2 separate regions of the Homo sapiens genome follow, and region 2 is linked to region 1. Evidence: fine-mapped expression QTL. A gene starts in region 1. The other region holds a variant in brackets. All regions are shown on one strand. Distances are from middle to middle.

Region 1 (2,922 bases):
CCTATGTCAGAACCACCTGGGATGCTCCTTTTAAAAAGTATACTTTTGTATCCTACCATAGACTGAGTGAAACAGACTCTCTGGGTTGGAGTCCCTTGAAACTGCATTTCAAACAAACTTCTCTCCCTGACACTTGGGCAGTCTAAAGTTTGAGAGTTACCAGAGTAGCATTTAAAAGCACTATATGTTTTGTCATTTTCATGTATATGATCCCTTCATGAGGCTAAAATCACTGAGCAAGACATACCTAGAGTTATAAACCAATCAAACACTGCATTTGCACACACGGAGAGATATATACACACATGGCATTAGAAATAACTGCAAATAAACTGTCTTTAATACTAGATCAAAACTATCCAAGAAGGTTCCCCTGAGCATCTGCAATGAAATGCAGATTAACCAGTTAATTGTGTCAGAGGAGAGAGAGAGTAAATTATGTATAATGACATCATTACACCTCTTGTACTCTTGTCTAAACATTCCTTGCTTGTACTTTCTTGAAACATCATTAAAAATCCATTTGATTCTAATAAGTTACTTCCAATACAAGTAAAAGTACCTCAGTATTTATCAGATGTGAAAAGAAAATAATCAAATCATCAAAATATGTTATTATTCCTCTTCTTCATAGTGATAGTCTTTACTAATATTTACTAAAGGTGAATCTCCCTTCAAATACCAAGCTGAAAGGCATTACTCTGGTCATGTGGTTCCATAAAAGAGGCAGTCAATCTTTTGGATATTTAGAAAATCCAATTGAGTACAATTTTCTCTTTTTCTCTGAGTGTTTGTCATGAGAAAAGCACAACTCAAACTCGATTTTGTCCAAATTATCCTTGCAAACATCCAGATACTATGAAATGTGTATTATATTCATCTCAACTTAGATCTAGCTAATATTTTAGAATTACAAAATACTTTGTCTTAAACTATTAAGAATATCAACAAGAATAACACATAGGACTTTATTTTTTCTGACTTAATGCTCCCCCAGGGAGTTGAACAGACAAAACAGAAATATATTAACAGGGATAGAAAATTGCATCTGAAAAGCATGAGTAACTTTTAACATCTTTGGAACTCTGCTTTCAGAAAGGTGATGTACCTCAGAGTATAGGATTCCCATGCTGGTCCTTCACAGGCTTACTTCACCTCTACAGCTCCTTGAATCTTCTGGAGGTATTTCTGATGAATATCAAAATCCTTCCTGGCTGAGAGGAAAGTCCCTAGAAGTCCAAGCTGGTGGCAAGCTCCAGGAGTGCTTTTCTAGCAAACACCTGTCAGTGCTTTTCCAGCAGCTCAGGCAGCAGCACACCTTCCAGAGAGCCCAGCCCAATGAAACAAAGGCACTGGTGTCATGTGTAACGACCCAAGCCTGTATCATCTAATGTTACAACCCTGAGGAGCCGGTTTCTGAGTCATATTTGCTCTGCCAGTGGTAACATGCAGGAAAGAAGGAAGCAAAGTTAAGGGAGGAAGAAAAGTTCTTACATTGGCAGGAAGGACTCACGGTTCAAACCAAGATACTGTATTTCAGACATTTCGTAATCAAAATCTGGTTTTCAGTGGCCATTGAGAAAGGCTAGAGACCAACAAACTTACTTGTGAGAGCCACACGTGTCTGGCAAAGAACTTGAAAAATAATCTTCAAAATTCTCAGCCTAACAAGTAACGCTTTTCCAGCTATTTATGCAGTTTTGTAAACTAATAAATTTACTAACATAATAAATCTTAAGTTGTTTTAAATATTCCAATACTATTCACACATTTAGCCAAATTACTTTATAATATTCAATTTAAAAATCATAAGTCTAAAATCAAATACTCTGTTATGCATTTTAAATTGCATCATCAATTTATTTATCAAACATGCTAGTATGCCCAATCTCTTAAATATTGTAAACATTTTATATGCTATATATGATATCATTCACACATTTTCCTTGAACTGAATACAATCACATCAAACTTTCCCAGAATTGAAACACTCGACCGTCCACACACCCATTATAACCATGGGACCAGCCCAAATGGGCCGTACTTTGTTGATAACAAATGTCAATTTACTCTGTAGATATAACAGAGCCAAAAACTGTAAGTCATTTAGCCCAGGCATGCACAATAAAAATGTTTTTGCCTCTAACAGAACCTAGAACAAATGATCCCTCCCCTGGGAACCAAGAAGACAAGGACATGACGGGAACCTAAATGCAGGACCTCTTTCAGAAGCTAGGGGCTCATTGGCCCAAAAGATCCAGGGCTGAAATCTGCCTCAACATACCTTACCTTTAGTGGTCAAATTTGAAGCCCTTCAATCAGTCCCTGCCAAACCAACATTCCTAAATCCTTTCCCTCACCCTCTAAGCCATACATTTTCTCAGATTCCAAACTGGGGAGGCAGATTTGAGCCCACCTCCTGTCTCCTTGCTGACCTGTCTTGCAATAAAGTTTTTCTTTCCTCAAAACCCAGTGTCCAGATATTGGCTTCTGTGAGCAGGGGGCAGCAAGCCTATTTGCTCAATAATATCATGGAAGAAATAGTTCAACCATCTCAAACCAATTGATGTGATTTTCCCAATCAGTTGAGGCTCCTTAGTGGCCAGAAACTAGTGACCAGGATACTAGGCCTGTGCTTATAAATATTCAGGGAAATTCTTCTTACTCCACTGGTGGATATACTGAGCTATTTTTATAATTATTTCAAAGATTTTATGTTTCACTATGCAGTTGACATCGAGGCCAGCCTCTCTGGAGTTTAAGAATTAGCTAATTCTTCCGTTGGAGGAGAGGGAAGTCTGCAATACCCACTAAAATTGCAGCTGACTTCCTCTTTGGCTTGGTTTGATTTTGTATTTCTGTAGACTCTTAAGACATTTAAGTGTCTTCCCATTGACTTAGAAAAACATTAATGGTATATCC
Region 2 (2,922 bases), 28 kb before region 1:
TAAACACACTCACCGCTGACACTTGATAGATGTTTTTATTGAAATTCCTTCACCAAAGGAATATTTACTTGTGAATCTCTAAGCCCACACACATACACAAATACCATTCTGTACAAACATACGTATTTAATAATTTGATTCTTCTGCTCAATACTCAAAGGGGGCTGGGAGGAACAGTTTGTCTCCTAGGGCATGACATAGACTGGACAGTCTTTTTATAAGAGTGATACAACTGGGAAGGGAGAACGCTGTTTCAGAAGATAACTCAGATCCTCTTCTTCAGGAAAGACTGAGTTTGGAACACCAGGGCTTTTTTTTTTTTTTTTTTTTTTGAGACAGGGTCTCGCTGTGTTGCCCTGGCTGCTCTCAAACTCCTGAGTTCAAGTGATCCTCCCACCTCAGCCTCCCAAGTAGCTGGGATTACAGGCATGTACCACTGTGCCTAGCTGAAACATCAGTTTCTGACTGAAGTGGAGACTACAACAACTTTAGTGTTTCCCTTAGAAGGATTACGGCCATGGTGAACTTGACTGAGTAAACAATGCTATAAATAAAAAGCTCTTCCAAAACATTAACCATGGTAAGCATCATTATCCCCATAAAATGGTGGCATCCAGGTTAAATGGCCCACAGACCAAAAGTCTAAAATGAAGATAGAATCCAGTCGTTAACTTTTTCTGTATCTCCATCGGTGTGGTCACAAGGATTACAATGCTTTCCTTAGCATTAATTCAATCTGGGAAAATTTTAATCTCCGTGCAATATCCAGTGAGCTCTCACCATGCTGAGGGGGGAAAAATATACAGTTATTTCCAATAGAGTGCCCAAGATCTCGTACGTAGCTTAGACCAATTGACTCTCTGTGTTGGCAAGGGCTTTAAAAGGCAATCAGTCCTAATAGTAATAGGATAACTTCATTCCTTAATGAGGATGATTAATTTTACTGTTGTTTACGTCAGAGGCAAATAATTTACTTCAACATAAGGCCTAGATTAGAAGATGCTGCTGCTAGAGGAACCTCAGACCACGGTCCACCCTCCCTTACCTTATTCTTTATTGTGGGGTCTGCACGGGCTTCCAAGAGCAGAGGGATAAGAGAC[T/G]GGTTTTTCATTTCACAGGCATAATGTAATGCGGTACAGCCATACTGAAACACAAAGGGCCAAAACTTCAGCTCATAAGTCGGGCCCTCCACAGACCATAGCATGTGGCTTCATTGGCAAATCCTTTTCACACTTTGTAGTATACAACTAAGCAGAAAAATAGTCTGCAAACCATTGATAGACAACTATTTCTAGTACTTAAAAAATTTTTCGCCGGGCGCGGTGGCTCACGCCTGTAATCCCAGCACTTTGGGAGGCCGAGGCGGGCGGATCACGAGGTCAGAGGATCGAGACCGTCCTGGCTAACACGGTGAAACCCTGTCTCTACTAAAAGATACAAAAAATTAGCCGGGCGCGGTGGCGGGTGCCTGTAGTCCCAGCTACTCCGGAGGCTGAGGCAGGAGAATGGCTCGAACCCGGGAGGCGGAGCTTGCAGTGAGCCGAGATTGCGCCACTGCGCTCCAGCCTGGGCGACAGAGCGAGACTCCGTCTCAAAAAAAAAAAAAAAAAAATTTCTTCTCTGTCTCAATGTATATGTATGTTAGTGTCATATAAGCCATCAATCTCTGCCTTTTTGTTTTCCATTTTCTGTTCTAAAGAATGCAACTTAAAAAAGCTGATGCTGAATTGTGCCAAAGTTTCTTTGTCGCATGCTATATGCCTCGGTGATCATCACCTTGATCATGTCACCATCTTTCCCTTAAAGAGTCTCCACATGGCCCTTTACATAAACATTATCCTCTATGGTTTTGGTGATGATTCCTACTGAAGAAGTCGGGTGCTCTTGCTGCAGGACACCTGCAAGATCAGTGCAGTTCTACAGAGACATTTCCCAAACGTGATTTGTTATAGCTTATATTATGTGTTATAAGCTAGTGCATCTACTCTGTTGGTACTAATTTAAAACACTACAGGTCAAAAAAATTATAGCTAGGGCATTAGTGTCCAAAATTTGGCCTTTGGAAAAGTAGCCAAGCAACCATGGTGCTGGTGAGTGAAGAAATAGTACCTTTGGCTATCAAGACAGGTTTAGCTCTGGATCCCATTCCCTAGAAACACCTCTAAAATTATAGGAGATCATGTTGCAATTATTTATTTTTATTAAGTGGTGGCATGACAAATGGAAGTTCTGGCTCTGAATTTTGTCATGTGAAATAGAGTCTAATTATCCAAAAATACAAAACACTGTCTTACCTAGAAAGTAGATTTTAATACTCAGATAGTTTTTGAAAAAATTTTGGTATTAGAAGTGGTGTCTGTGTGTGTACCTGCATGTGTCTCAAACTCCTGAGTTCAAGGGATCCTCCCATCTCAGCCTTCCAAGTAGCTGGGACTACAGGCTAGTGTCACTGTGCCTAGCTGAAGGAATGCAATATCTCTATCTAGAGAGAGAAATACACATAAATTGCTGAGAAAATATCCTAGAGAAATTTTGGTCACAGGCAGGAATATTAAATCTATTGAATTTAAATGAAAAGACCAAGAAAAACCTTCAACAAACTTTTAACTTCATCTTTAATAATCTCTTACTTAATATATTTCAAAGCTATCTAAAGAAATGGTAATGCACAGTAACTGTCAATACAAATTTATCCAAAAGTTCTATTTGAAATAAAAGGGAATATAAATTTCATAAAGTTATTTTCTTTTGCTCTCTCTCTCTCTCTCTCTCTCTCTCACACACACACACACACACACACACACACACAACTGCCTGCATTTAAACATGATACCAGCATAGGCAAAACCGAAATGATGTAAATAATTGATAGAAACAGGAATGGGGCCATGGTCTCTATCATAAAACAATGGTAATACACAC

What was found. PIP is the estimated chance that this variant, and not a neighbour inherited with it, causes the effect.
Region 2: its variant is the best candidate, but not a certain one, in a credible set for the expression of ANKRD22 in whole blood (INTERVAL, PIP 0.85).

Annotation. Positions count from the first base shown.
Region 1 is chr10:88,850,479-88,853,400 of GRCh38, forward strand. It overlaps ANKRD22 (ankyrin repeat domain 22), which reads right to left and starts at 1,366. Exons shown (of 6, transcript NM_144590.3): 1 at 1,109-1,366. The coding sequence starts at 1,129.
Region 2 is chr10:88,822,235-88,825,156 of GRCh38, forward strand. It overlaps ANKRD22 (ankyrin repeat domain 22), which reads right to left. Exons shown (of 6, transcript NM_144590.3): 5 at 1,046-1,144; 6 at 1-784. The coding sequence ends at 707. Among named protein-coding and RNA genes, the nearest start is that of LIPM, 21 kb to the left of the region's middle. The variant T/G (reference allele first, on the strand shown) is at 1,101.